2 separate regions of the Homo sapiens genome follow, and region 1 is linked to region 2. Evidence: fine-mapped expression QTL. Tissue or cell type: whole blood. Region 2 holds a variant in brackets; the other region holds the start of a gene. All regions are shown on one strand. Distances are between the middles of the regions.

Region 1 (7,400 bases), 120 kb before region 2:
TCATATGCGGGGATACAGCGAAGATGGACGAAGATCTACACGCACCAGTGCGGATAGCCCTCGAGGACATGACGTTGAGTGAAAAAAGAAAATTGCAAAAGGATATGTAGAGTATGATGCCAATTATGCTATTTCTCCAAAACACAAAAAGCAATGATGACGAATTCATAGTTATGTAGTAAAAATACAGAAGCCATGCATGGGAATAAAAAAACAGGTCTCAGTCATGAGACAGAGGGACCGAGGATGGGAGCCCCTGGGGGCAGTCCTGGCAGGATTCCAGGAGGAGGTGCCTTTGCATGACGGGAGCTGGGGTGGTGGGTCCAACAGCTGTGTGCAGGGCCTGGAAGGCGCAGGCCTGTCTGGGAAGGGAGGAGAAAAGGAAGGCAGCCATATTTTTGCTTGGATAATAACTGGTGAATGGCTGTGTCAGGACCTGCAATATAATAGAAGGAAGAGTGAAGTTTGGGGCAGGGCAGGTTATTTTTGGACCCGCCGGGTCTGAGAGGCCCCCGAGGAATTGTATGGAGACACCGGGCCAGCAGGACGGGTGGGTCTGGGAATCAGCGATGGAGCAGCAGAGCCCTGGATTTGGGTGTGATCATGGGAGTGGCCAAGCTCCCCCAGAAAGGACAGGTGACAACTGCCCGTGGGTGGGAAAGGGAAGCCAGGGACGGGCTGTGGGATCAGACTTGGGCCTCGTGGTGCCTGGTGAGGCAGCCACGTGAGACATAGAGACCCACTGGAGGTCGTGGTTTTCCCAGACCCTGTGACACAAGTGAGGCCTGCTGTTTAAGCCTCTTTTCCTCAGAACACGTCCTGGGGGTGCTGGCTCCATCCCAGGTGCTGGGGCTCGGTTTCTGGGATCTGGAAGAATTAGGGTGGAGCTGGCAATGTGGCTGGGAGGCTCAAAGCTCAGCTTCTTGAGGACTAGCAAGGATGGTTTTCTTATTCATCTATTCCTGTGTTTTCCAAATTCTCTACAATGAGCACATTTCACTTTTACAACTAGAAAAATGGATGCTATTTAAAGAGCAGGCTGCTCCCTAAGCTGGAACGCCGGGTGTCAGCCCGGCCCAGCACCCACCTGCTCTCCGCCTCAGCCAGCGTGGGGATTTGGAAGGGACAGTGTCTCCCTCTGGGCTCCGGGAGAGAACGGACCGTCTGCAAGGGGCACGTTTACTGCAGGAATCAAAAGCACATACACGCATGTGCATCTGTTTGGAAATGAAAGTAGATGTTTTTTCTGATTCTAAAAATATTGTTTCCAATTCTACAAAAAAAATACATACAATTCAGAAAGATACAAAACAAAATATCAAGTCACCTGAGATCCTATCACCTGGAGCTATGGCCACTTTAGAGCTTGGTATCTACGCTTTCAGGCTTTGTTTTTCTTGAGTGCAACACACACAGGCACGCGTTTTTAAAAACAAATAATGTGATCATACTATACACACTTTTTTAAACAGAAATGTGAGCATACGATACCAGCTTTTTTATGGCTGACTTTAAAAAACTTAAACAATAGGTTGTTTACGTCTTTCTGTTAAGCTTGGACTGGGGACATTTTTAAATGGCCCCATTGTATTTGGACGTATGTGCGTTTCCCATCGCTTGTTAAATCACTCCTCTGTTGGACGTCTAGGATGTTTCCAATTATTCCCTGTTATATTATGGACAACACTGCCGTAAGCATCCCTGAGTGAGTTATATTTAAAGGCTTACAACAGCGCCTGGCACGGGGTAGGTGCTATAAAGTATTTGGACTAAAGTCAAATCTGTGCACACACCATCCTTGTGTTGTTTCCCCAGGATCAATTCCAGCAGGAGGACAGCTGGGCTGAGGGGGCACTGCCCTCGTCAGGAAGGTTGTCCCCGTGGCCTGCCTCCGACTGAGGAGGAGCCACCCTCGGGGTCGGGCGTGGACCCCGAGCCGCCGGCATGGGAACCCTCTTTGCTTCAGGGCAACACGGGAGGGGTCTGGATCTCCGACCCACCGTTCCGGGTCTGAATCCAGCTCCGGGACCTGACAGGGATGTGATTGTGGGGCAGCCGCATGGCCTCTTGGCGCTCCAGCCTCCTCCCCTGTGACATAGAGGCAGCGATGGTTGGTAACCAGGGACAGCGGGCGGCTCCGTCACACGAGTCAGGACATGTGACCCTTGGAGGGTTGTTGCATCACCCTGGACGTTTGGCCAGACGTGTGGCCATGGTTTTAATCAGGACAATTTTTTGCTTGCTCTAACTTATGAGGGTGGCCAGATCTAGACAGACAGCAGAAGTAACCCGAAGTCCTGGCCTGCCCTGTGCCATCCTCTGACATGTTATCATCGGCGTTCACTCTGTGGGCTCCTCTCGGGGTGATGCCTGCCGGTCTCAGCTTTGGGGTGAAGTGACATTTGGCCTTGACTAGAAGAGGCAGGTTGTGGGGGGCAGGCAGGGTGCAGGCGAGGGAACTGAGGCAGAGCGGGCTGGGAGCAGGGGGGATGTAGGGTCCTCCCAGGCTGACCCCCAGAACCTGGGCGTGCAGGCCTGCTCTGGGGTCCAGGCTCCGATGCAGTCTCAGCGCAGGCCCTGGTGGCCGGAGACAGGGCAGGGCAGGAGCTTCAGGCCACCCGCACCGGCAGCCCTCAAGGCTGCCTTGATGGAATCGGACCCAGATGGACTCTAAGCGGCCTCCTGCTTGGAAACCCTGTCAGACCCTGCGTTTTCTACAGAGCGGCTGTCACACGGCTTTTCCGGACGGTGATTATGGACTGCGTGTGGGATTGGCGGGCCAGGTGAGCTCTCGTGCTTGCCCTTCACACAGGAATGCTGCTGGTCTCCTGTGTCTGGTTCCCGTCTGCATTTTCAGTCCTCAGTGTTGAGTGTGTGCAAATCCCTTCTATCACCTGACATTTAAAATAGATACCCTCAGAGTGGAAGTTCGTTCCTATTATTGACCCGCTCACTCTGCAATCTTGAAGGGGGTTCTCCAAGCAGGAGGGAAAGCCGGCCAGAACGCGGTCCTGGAGCAGCCAGGAAGCCGAGGGGGCGGTGAGGGCAGGGATGGCCCAGCCGTGGCCTCTGCCGCTCGCTGGTTTTCACGTGAGACTGCCGCCGGGCCAACCCGGAGCCCAGGCCGCCTCTGCATCTGAATAGAGCCAAGCTGCCTTCAGGATCTCACCTGCGTGGCTGTGCCTTCGGCCGCCCGGCCGTGCAGAGCTGCGGGCCCCTTCCCCACCGAGAAGCGTCTGTTCGCGCCCTGCAGGGAGCTGGGCTGGGGGCTCAGAGGATGCCTCTGTGCTTGGCCTTAAGGTGCACAGGGAGAGCTTGGGCGATCCTGGCTCAAGGGCTCTGCTTGGAAACAGCTCGGGGAAATGGTTCCTCCCCCTGGATGTAGTCACAGCGTGGTAAATTCCATCTGAAAAATAAAAGCCGAGCTCTTTGCTGAGTCATAGAAGCTCGGAGCTGATTTGCGCAAAAGCCGGACTGAGTCTTGGACGAGCCGGGAAAGATTCTCACAGTCGAGCAGAGCGATGGGAGAGAGGAGCAGACAGCGAGCTTTGGAATGTGAGTGTTTATTTTCTGACTGCTGCAGAGGCTTTGTTGGTTTCGGTTTGGCTGTCTCTGCACAGGCTCTTTCCACCTGGTGCTCTTCTGTATTTAGTGCGCACACGTATGTGGCTGGAAAGTTGACAGTTTGGGGTCTGTCCTCTGAGGGGTGCAGGGACGATCACAGAGGAAGATGCTTCATTTATCCGTTTTCACGTTCATGCTCATGCACACATTTGGAGGAGGCTTGGGCCTGCGTTCCCAGTAGTAGGTTTCTCCTTTAAAGCATGGGTGTGTGTTCCATCCCATATGTAAAGCGGATGCTTGTTGGCACGGCAGCCGTGGTGGGGTGGGTTGGGGAAGCCAGGCTGAGTCTGTGTATTGCCGGCTGTGGTGAGAATCCCACGGACATAGCACCAGAGAGCTGTCTGCACAGCCCGGGAGGCCTGCGGCGTCCGGGTGCTTCCTGGCTCCGTGGGGTAACCGGCTGGACTTTTTTGCTGCTTGTTTTCCTTTTGAAGAATAGGTCATCTTTATGGCTTGAGGCCTCACCACCTACCTGCGCATTGATTGGATGGTGTCTTCTCTTTAAAACTTAATCAAGAATCACACATCACTCATTGATATAACTTCTTATGCAAGGAACTCCAGGTTTTTGGGAAACAACAGCTTATTAACTTACTAATTCACTCTTTGAGGTTATTGCACCATGCCTCAGTTTCTACAGTTGTTCAAAGAAAATCCACTGCTGATTGGGACTGGCAGGGCTGCGGTGGAAAGGGTGTCACAGGTAACTTGGCAGTACGTTGTTGTACTGATGCTTATTGAGATGTCAGTGAGACTGGCCGGGAAACCATGCAGGCACCCTAGGGATGTAAATACTTGCTGCTGCCGTTGATTTTGTTGTTCACAGTGTGGGAGAACCAGTCACAAAACGGTTTTCTCATTCCAAGCCAAGCCTGGAGTAGTAGACTTGAGAGTCCTCTCAGTGGATCGGGCCTTTGAGCAGGTCCGTGGTAAAACGCCACCTCAGTTCCCGAGAAGAGCAGCAGAAGAGGAAAGTGAGCCGGGCCGAGGAAGGACCCTCAGTTTACATTCACAGCATTACCGGCAAAAGGCTGGCGTTTGGATGAGGTTCCCTAAGAGTCCCACAGAGTAGATCAATATGATCAATATGTGCTTGGAGAAGACAAGACGCCTGGCACATTCACATTCCTTCTCCAAGGCTGAGGGTGGGGGGAGGGCATTGGCATTCCTGCTATTCCCGAGGTTTCCCTGCCTCTCCTGTGAGTTGAGGGCACCCCTGTGAAACCTAAGGGCACGCTGTGGCAGAGAACATGCACGGAGCTCCTGCTTCTCTCCCGACAGCCCTGGGAAGGCCTTACTACTTTAGGTCCTAACTAACAATATCCAAACGACCAGGTGGTGGTCCCACAGCAAGGGAGCTGTCAGTCAGAGCTGTGCCTCTGCCCCCGTATTTTGGATCGAGCTCCTCCAAGAGAAGTAAGTGTCCTATACATGTTCTTGGAAGGTTGATCTTGACTGTGGACTTCCGTGTGGACTGTGGGCTTCCGTGTGTACTGTGGGCTTCCGTGTGGACTCTGGGCTTCCGTGTGGACTGGACTGTGGGCTTCCATGTGGACTGTGGGCTTCCGTGTGGACTGTGGGCTTCCGTGTGGACTCTGGGCTTCCATGTGGACTGGACTGTGGGCTTCCGTGTGGACTCTGGGCTTCCGTGTGGACTGTGGGCTTCCGTGTGGACTGTGGGCTTCCGTGTGGACTGGACTGTGGGCTTCTGTGTGGACTGTGGGCTTACGTGTGGACTGTGGGCTTCCGTGTGGACTGGACTGTGGGCTTCTGTGTGGACTCTGGGCTTCTGTGTGGACTGTGGGCTTCCGTGTGGACTCTGGGTTTCTGTGTGGTCTGGACTGTGAGCTTCCGTGTGGACTGTGGGCTTCTGTGTGGACTGGACTATGGGCTTCCGTGTGGACTGTGGGCTTCCGTGTGGACTGTGGGCTTCCGTGTGGACTGTGGGTTTCTGTGTGGACTGTGGGTTTCTGTGTGGTCTGGACTGTGGGCTTCCGTGTGGACTGGACTGTGGGTTTCTGTGTGGACTGTGGGTTTCTGCGTGGTCTGGACTGTGGGCTTCCATGTGGACTGTGGGCTTCCGTGTGCACTGTGGCTTCCGTGTGGACTGTGGGCTTCTGTAAACTGAATTCCATTCAGGACCAATGCCATATCTTTTTATTTTTCCTTGACTCCTGAGTTTCCAGACAGGCAAGCTAGGATGTGGCTGGATGGTGGTGTTAATTTTCCATTTGGACCCTGAAACGGCCCTCTTTAGTACGGGGATTGAATAAGTTCAGGACACTAGCCACTGAGATGACTCTTTTTGAAAGAGCCTATGTTGGCCTCCTAGGCTTCTTCCATGAATCTCTTGGGCAAGTGTTTCTTATCCATGAACCTCTTGGGCAGGTGTTTCTTATCTCAATATAGCCCTGTTGGTCTGGCACCCCAAGCTGGGCTTTGAGCGATGTGAGGTAGACGTGCTTTGGGAGCCGGAGACTGGAGGTGTCTCCTGTCCTGCACCTTAGCCCCAGGAGCTGCCTGGGCCTGCTTTCTTTGCAGACGTCTTATATTTATCAAACCTGTGCTGCAGGCAAGGGCCATGCTTACTTTCCTTTGGGGTCCCTCTGGAAGGCTCTCAGGAGCTGAGTTCTTGATTGCCTTGGGTTTTTGACCCCAGGACATGACATCAGGAATGTCCTGTGGTTGCCAGTTTCCAAGCAAGCACAGCTGGCAGGGGCATCATGGGAAACCCTCTCCTTGGCACAGAGAATTGGTCTCCAGAAAAACCGGGCCTCAAAGTGAAGCCGGAATTCAAACCTAGGGAAAGTGACTCCGGCCAGCTCAGGATGAAGGATGTGACTGGATCAGGAGGATTTGCAGACCTTACTGGCCTTAGTGCTCGGCCTGCGGCTGAGTTCGAGGGGAGCGCCTTTAGCTGGACTGGTCCAATGTGTTTAATTGGGTAAGGAGGAATCCTACCCAGGCGCCATTCTTCCTGGGCACGGAGCTTATTAAAACTTTCCCCAGCTGCTGCTCTTCCCAGACATCCACCTGCCTGGTGGGTGGTTGACCCAGGACTACTTTGACTTTGAAGGACCCCAGGTCTTCCTGCCTGAGGAGGACTCTGAGCACCCAGCCAGGGGTGGGAGGCCAGGGGAGGGGTCTGGAGGCCTCGGTTTTTCTTCTGAAGGGACACTGGGTCTGTGTTACACCCCCAAGGACACGTTTTCCCAGGTCCCCACTGACCTGTTTCGTGTTAAGCTGAGATCCAGTACTATCCTGATGGTGGTGGGGTGGGTCTGAGCAGGAAGGGGCCTGGAATCCATCCCATCTTCACCAGGGACCCCCCAGACAACCTTCTCAGGGGGCTCCTGGGTGTTTTGGTGATGAGCTCCGATGGGGAGGAGTTAGGACTTGGGCTGAAGCTCTGCTGTTTGAAGCTGTCTCACATGTAGGTCTGGCATCCCCCCCTGCGTGCAGGTCTCTGTGGTCAACCTCCTGTTGTGTCCAGCGGCCATGTCCATTTCAGAGTTTCATTAAAGAGCGCAATTGGCAGGTGCATAGCACCTGATAGCCTGCAGCATGGCTCTGGTCTCAGAGTGGGAAGAAGAGGAAACCATGGACAGAAGGACCTTCCAGTGACATTTAGCAAAAAGAAGCAAAGTGTGAAAGTGAGGTGGTGATGTTGGGTTGGGAAGGTGGGGGCTTCCTGAGCCCGCCCTTGCTGCTTATCCATTCCACCAATGTTCACTGGTACCAGCACCCTGTGTGTGGGCACTGATGGCATAGGGCAC
Region 2 (6,700 bases):
GATTTAGCCCCGGCCGCTCTGGCCGGAGTCCCTGGTGGCCCCGAACCCTTCCAGTAACCTGGGTTCAGCGACTCCAAGGAAAGCGAGCGGTCAAGGGCCACTGGCCGGGAACCCTGGCAGCCCCTGAACCTTCGAGAGCAGAGACCCCTCCCCAACACCCACACGCACCGGCGCGGGAGGTCCCGCTCTGCCAGAAACAAAGCCTCCCCGCTCGGGCGGGGGGAGATGGGGGTGGGAGGAAGGAGGCTTCGGGACCCGGCAGGACCTGGGCGGGGGAGTCCATGGGGTCCCAGACCCGACTCTGGACTTGGCCTCGGCGGGAGGGCCGTGGGGTCTGACCTCTGGCATTAGCTCGAGCCGTGGGCTGTGGGCTCCACTCCCCCAGACTCTGAGCGAGGAAGGAGCCCTCCCCTCTCCAGATGGGAGGGGCTGCTGCCTCCAGAGGGTTCTGCCCGGCTGGGTCTGGTCTTGATGCAGGAGGTCTTGCCAGTCAGCTGGCATGTGGGGGTCGAGTTTGGGGGTGGCAGGAGGACCCCTTCCCAGGGGAGGTCAGGCAACCATGTCAGTGCGGAGGGGCAGCTGCTTCCCGGGAACTTTCACCTCCATCCGGATGAGTGCAGTAAGAAGAGCACAGCCCCACACCCCAGCTGCGTCTCCTCTGGGTTCCAAACCCAGTCTCAGTGCGGGTGCCTGAACACTTGGGCGCCTATGAGCAGAGAGCCCAGACCACACGTCTCCTCAAGCCTCCTTCTGCCCGGTTGCGTTTTCTAGGGCTTCCTTGAAAATGCGTGGGTCCCCTGGGAGGGGTGGAAAGTGAAGAAGAGGGACAGCACCGGGAAGGCAGCCAGGGCCTGATGCGGCCACAGAGGCTCTGCAAATGCATGGTGGTGCCGGGTCAGGGCTGAGCCTGGCGCTCAGCTGGGACTGGGCAGGAGGAGGAGAGGTGCAGCGGCTGGGAACAGACAGCTCTGTAGACCAAGGGTCTAAAACTTCTTCCACAACCAGCCCGAGAGTAAATGTTGTCAGCTTTGCGGACCACGCTGTTCCTGTCTCAGCTGCTTGGCCCTGCCAGGAAAGCAGTCCTGGACATTTAGGAAGTCGATGGGCACCACTGTGTTCCAACAAAACTTCATCTGTGGATGCTGCAGTGTGAACTTCATAGAATTTTTGAGTCATGACATACTCTTGTTATTGTTTTCAGTGAATATACAAGAACGATTCTTAGCCTAGGGCTGTATGAAGAGAGGTAGAGGGTTGGGTCTGGCCTGTGGCATAGTCTGCCAACCGTTTGTAGACTATGGGGTAGAGGTTGACAAGTCACTGGGATCCTGAAAATACAGCCCCACAGTTAGATGTCAGCAGTGAATCCTGTAATGGAGTTCCTAGATAATGAACTCCTTCTCATTCTGAGAGTTTTACCAATTGTGCACTTCAGTTTAATGCTCTTGGCTTCAGACTGACGGTGCGTGAAGGCTCTAGCCCCAGGCTAGGGCCCTGGCCACCTATGGGTGGGCCCTGGAAACCCAGAGCAGGCGGCCGGACCTCCCTGTTAAATGCAGACGGTCAGTCCTGCCGGGTCAGTTGCAGGGCGTGCTGAGGCGCACGCCAGACGGTGGAGGGAAAAGCGTTGCCGAGTCCAGCCCGTGGGCGCGTCCTTCTCCACCTCCTTTCACTCCTTTTTTGTGTTTCTCTCCCCCATTCTCCAATGAGGTCAGATCTTCACCTCTGACGGTCATGCAGAGTCCCATCAGTGACACCCTACTTTCTGCCTAATCTTCTGCTTCCCGGCCATCTGGTAGGATTCTTAGAAGTGGATTTATGACTGCCAAGCACTGGAGTCAATCCCTGTCTAACGCCACAGCTCTGTGCTGCCAGGGCTGACCTACAAAGAGCGGGCCTCACCAGCCTGACGCTCTGTGTCCCACTGGGAGTGCGTCCGAGCTGCACTGGAACCGAGGTCACCCCATCTCTTCCCCATCACCCCCATGGCCTCTTGGTCAGCAAGTCCTGCCCTCCTGACTCCCAGCCTCTCTGGAATCCACTCTCCTCCCGTCCCTTCCCATAGTCCTGTCCCAGAGCCCCTCATCTCACTCAGAAATCACCCCAGCAATGATCCGGCTCCCACTGTTACCTGTCACAAGCTACTTTCTAACACAGCAGCCAAAGGTGATCTCTTTAAAACATCAAACCAGGATTGAAACCTGCTTAAGGCCCCCAGTCAGGGGGCAGCCATGGAGTCCCCAGGCCTACATATCCTGCCCCTGCCAAGCTCTGGGCACCGACTTGCCTCTGGCACCACCACCCCACCAGAAGGTTCCATCCCTCGGCCTCCTCCCAGGTCTGCTGATGGCAGCTCAAGCCCTTTCCTGCCCCAAGGCCAGGCTGCTTCCTGGCTGGAACGCTCGCCATGTCTGCCTTGCCCCTGTATCAGCCACCCTGGCCCCAGAGGTCCTTCTCCCAGCCCCTCTCTCATGGCCCTGCCATGGCGCCCTCACTGTGCTCTGCGCATTCGTCACCGACTGTGATGATCTGTGCACGTGTGTTTTTGCTGCCGTTGGTCTCCCCTCAGTGGGAGGCAGCCTCCTGGGGTGGGGACCATGCCTGTGGGGGCGCTGTCTGCCTCCGCCTCCTGGCACCATCACTGGTCTGTAGTGTTTGGGTGGAACCAAAGTCCAGCTCCGTCCGCTCCCAGCCTCCTCTGCGTGGGTGGAAGACAGGGTGGAGGAGAGCAGGATCTCTGAGGCTGCACAGGAGGCCATGAGGCAGCGTTCGCCTCCCACCTCAGGC[T/G]GGGGCTCCTCAATCCAGTGGTAAATCAGAAGATATAAATATGACCTGTGGCACTACCACACTTTCACCAACACGGGCTTTGCCCTCAGCGAGGTCTGAGCAGCAGCTGTGGGGCGTGCGTGGCACTTCCAGGGGCAACTGTTTTTGAGCGCCTGGTGCCACTTCTTGGGGAATAGTAAGCCGCTGCAGGCTTTTGTGCTCGTTTTTACGTCTAGAAATTTTGCCTGAATGTTTCAGTCATAATTTCAGAGGAAGGAGTTGCACCAAGAGTGTTACTGAGTAACTCAGTTTGGAGAAAAATTACCCTTTGTTGTTCCCGATAGAGTGACCGCCTTCTGATCAGAGGTGGGAGGATCGTGAATGACGACCAGTCCTTTTACGCTGATGTGCACGTGGAAGATGGCTTGATAAAGTAAGTTTCCGCCGAAAATGAAAATACGTTCCCAGCTCGTGTGTACACGCTGGTCACGTGGTATCCAGGCAGTTGAAAGTATGTTCCCAGCTCGTGTGTACACGCTGGTCACGTGGTATCCAGGCAGGTGAAAGTATGTTCCCAGCTCGTGTGTACACGCTGGCCACGTGGTATCCAGGCAGTTGAAAGTATGTTCCCAGCTCGTGTGTACACGCTGGTCACATGGTATCCAGGCAGGTGCAAATAGTTCCCAGCTCGTGTGTACACGCTGGCCACGTGGTATCCAGGCAGTTGAAAGTATGTTCCCACCTCTTGTGTACACACTGGTCACGTGGTATCCAGGCAGTTGAAAGTATGTTCCCAGCTCTTGTGTACACACTGGTCACGTGGTATCCAGGCAGGTGCAAATAGTTCCCAGCTCGTGTGTACACGCTGGCCACGTGGTATCCAGGCAGTTGAAAGTATGTTCCCACCTCTTGTGTACACACTGGCCACGTGGTATCCAGGCAGTTGAAAGTATGTTCCCACCTCTTGTGTACACACTGGTCACGTGGTATCCAGGCAGGTGCAAATAGTTCCCAGCTCGTGTGTACACGCTGGTCATGTGGTATCCAGGCAGATGAAAGTATGTTCCCAGCTCGTGTGTACACGCTGGTCATGTGGTATCCAGGCAGATGAACATAGTTCCCAGCTCGTGTGTACACGCTGGTCACATGGTATCCAGGCAGGTTAAAGTATGTTCCCAGCTCGTGTGTACACGCTGGTCACGTGGTATCCAGGCAGGTGAAAGTATGTTCCCAGCTCGTGTGTACACGCTGGTCACGTGGTATCCAGGCAGGTGAAAGTATGTTCCCAGCTCGTGTGTACACGCTGGTCACGTGGTATCCAGGCAGGTGAAAGTATGTTCCCACCTCTTGTGTACACACTGGTCACGTGGTATCCAGGCAGGTGCAAATAGTTCCCAGCTCGTGTGTACACACTGGTCACGTGGTATCCAGGCAGTTGAAAGTATGTTCCCAGCTCGTGTGTACACGCTGGTCATGTGGTATCCAGGCAGATGAACATAGTTCCCAGCTCGTGTGTACACGCTGGTCACATGGTATCCAGGCAGGTGAAAGTATGTTCCCAGCTCGTGTGTACACGCTGGTCACGTGGTATCCAGGCAGGTGAAAGTATGTTCCCAGCTCGTGTGTACACGCTGGTCACGTGGTATCCAGGCAGGTGAAAATAGTTCCCAGCTCTTGTGTACACACTGGTCACGTGGTATCCAGGCATTGACTTTTGGGTGAAATCCATGGGAGAGGTTTCTTCTTTTCTAAACCCATCCTTGGCAGCAGTAAGCTGGTGGCCACTGTCAGAGCCCCGGCCTTTGGTGAGGGCAGAGGTATGTTGGGTGGCTGTGGGCGAAAGCAGGACACCAGCTTCCACGTTTCTTTGTTCATCGCAGCACTTAGTATGGTGCCTGGCTCATAGCAGGTGCTTCCTAAATACTGGTGCCCACATCTATTAGCGCACCTGCTTCCGTTTGTCAAGCTGCTCCGTCCTCTAGTCAAAAAAGTACCAACCAGGGACCTGAGTGGAAAACCACAGGGCGTGGCGTCTGCGTGAGGCTGGACCCTGCAGTGACCGTCCTGAGCTGCGCTGAGTGATGCTTTGCTCCCTGGCACTCCCGAGGAGCTAGTCCAGTGAGTGGCCGGCCGTGCTGGCCTTTTCCTCGGGGTCTGGAGCTCATGCAAACCCTTTAGCTCTGCTGCATTGCTGGGAGCCCATCTGGGCTCTGACCTGGGCTCCCTGTAACCAGTGAAATCTCTGCTGCTTTCAGACAAATCGGAGAAAACCTCATCGTCCCTGGGGGCATCAAGACCATTGACGCCCACGGCCTGATGGTCCTTCCTGGTGGCGTTGACGTCCACACAAGGCTGCAGATGCCTGTCCTGGGCATGACACCGGCTGACGACTTCTGTCAGGGCACCAAGGCAGCGCTAGCAGGAGGAACCACCATGATCTGTGAGTGTCTGGGTCTCCTCCTCTACAGGGGGCAGCCAGCGTCTGCTGCCCCTCTCTCTGGCCAGGTGTGTGTGGGAGGAGGAGTGTCGCCTAAAGGTGCCTTTCTCAGCTGTCTGCCTTTATTGCATCTGTCTGAGAACCTGGAGTGCTTTTCTAATCCCTGTGTCTCACTCTGGGTGTTTCTGTGTGGCCAGTGCTGGAATGCTCCTGGGATTTCCAGGACTGGAAATCAGTGACTGACGTGTGTCCACTTGTTCTTCCCTGGGCACTAGTAGCCAGCTCGGAGTTGGGGGTTGGAAAACTCAAATGCCTTGGGCGAGGGGAGGGGTCATGCTGTCTGAAATGCCAGATACATGTTTGACCTTGAGCCACATGCCTCGGAAGCTTCATATCTGGAAGGTTCTTGCTCATGTCAAGAAGAGTTAAGGATGGAGACTGTATTTTTAGAAAAAGATAAAAGCAATGCTCATTATTATCCCATCAAAAAATAACCCGAGTTGCTATTTCTGTAGTGCTGGCTGCGTGCCCGGCACGGGCTCTATCCTGACACCCATCGGCTCACATGCTCTCCTCCTAAAACCCTCTGAGCTCAGCCCAGCTGGGCTCAGCTAAGCCTAGTTTAACAGGTGGGTGAGTGGAGTCCGCCTGCCCACCACGAGCACGTGGTGAGCTCAGGAGGCAGGACGAGGCCTCAGAGCCTAGACCTTGACTGCACTGTGTGGCCTTGGGTGCCATTCACTCTGCGGCGTCCGTCTGGCACAGACATCGCTGCTGTGGTTGAGAACGGGTCTGAGGAGCCTAGCTGAACCTGGTTGTATGGTTTTCTAGCTGTGTGACTCCAGATAAACTCAGCTGGCTTTTATAAGTCACACTTTGTTGATCTGTAAAACAGAACACTGGCCTCATGAGCTTCTGAGGCATGTGTGAGTTAATGCACGTCAGTTGCTTTGTGTCCCTGGCACACCGGGGAGGGCAGCTCTGAGGACCCTGAAACACCTCGCGGGACATTTAGCCATTACCAAATCACAGCTTGGTTTGGTTTACTCAGCCACAAAGGGAGAAAACACCAGCAGCAGCCCATCTTGCAGTCTGAGGAGACTGGCCACTGCTCGCGCCCTTCAGGGGGCGGCCCAAGCCGGTCAGGACGTCTGCACAGTCGAGACCACCTGCCTCGTGCCAGTGCCAAGGCACCCGGCCAGCTGTGGGTCCCCGCGAAGACAGAGAAACACCACAGACACGAGGCTGGCCTCTATCCTGCCTCTGTCTTCCTCGGCCTGCAGGCCCAGGCTGGCACTGTGGGTGGCTGCAGGGAGGCTGGGTGCCCACTTCATCTTGTTGGGATGAGTAGGGGCCCGAGGGAGGGCTGTGCTGGAGGAAGGCATCCCTGGCGGGTGCGCCCTCCTGTCCGACCACCTGGCTTGGAGCTGTGTCTGGCTGCACCAGGAGAGGCCAGTGAGCAGTGTTCGGGCCTTGGGTGTGTGGTTGGTGGGGCAG

Evidence for each region. PIP is the estimated chance that this variant, and not a neighbour inherited with it, causes the effect.
Region 1: it holds the start of JAKMIP3, and the variant in region 2 is fine-mapped to the expression of JAKMIP3 in whole blood (TOPMed, PIP above 0.99). The same link has a PIP of 0.9 or more in T cells.

Annotation. Positions count from the first base shown.
Region 1 is chr10:132,062,507-132,069,906 of GRCh38, forward strand. JAKMIP3 (Janus kinase and microtubule interacting protein 3) reads left to right here and starts at 3,440. Exons shown (of 24, transcript NM_001323087.2): 1 at 3,440-3,555. RefSeq lists enhancers at 2,217-2,964, 5,239-5,739.
Region 2 is chr10:132,187,637-132,194,336 of GRCh38, forward strand. DPYSL4 (dihydropyrimidinase like 4) reads left to right here. Exons shown (of 14, transcript NM_006426.3): 2 at 3,111-3,199; 3 at 5,022-5,206. Among named protein-coding and RNA genes, the nearest start is that of DPYSL4, 4.0 kb to the left of the region's middle. RefSeq lists an enhancer at 31-532. The variant T/G (reference allele first, on the strand shown) is at 2,788.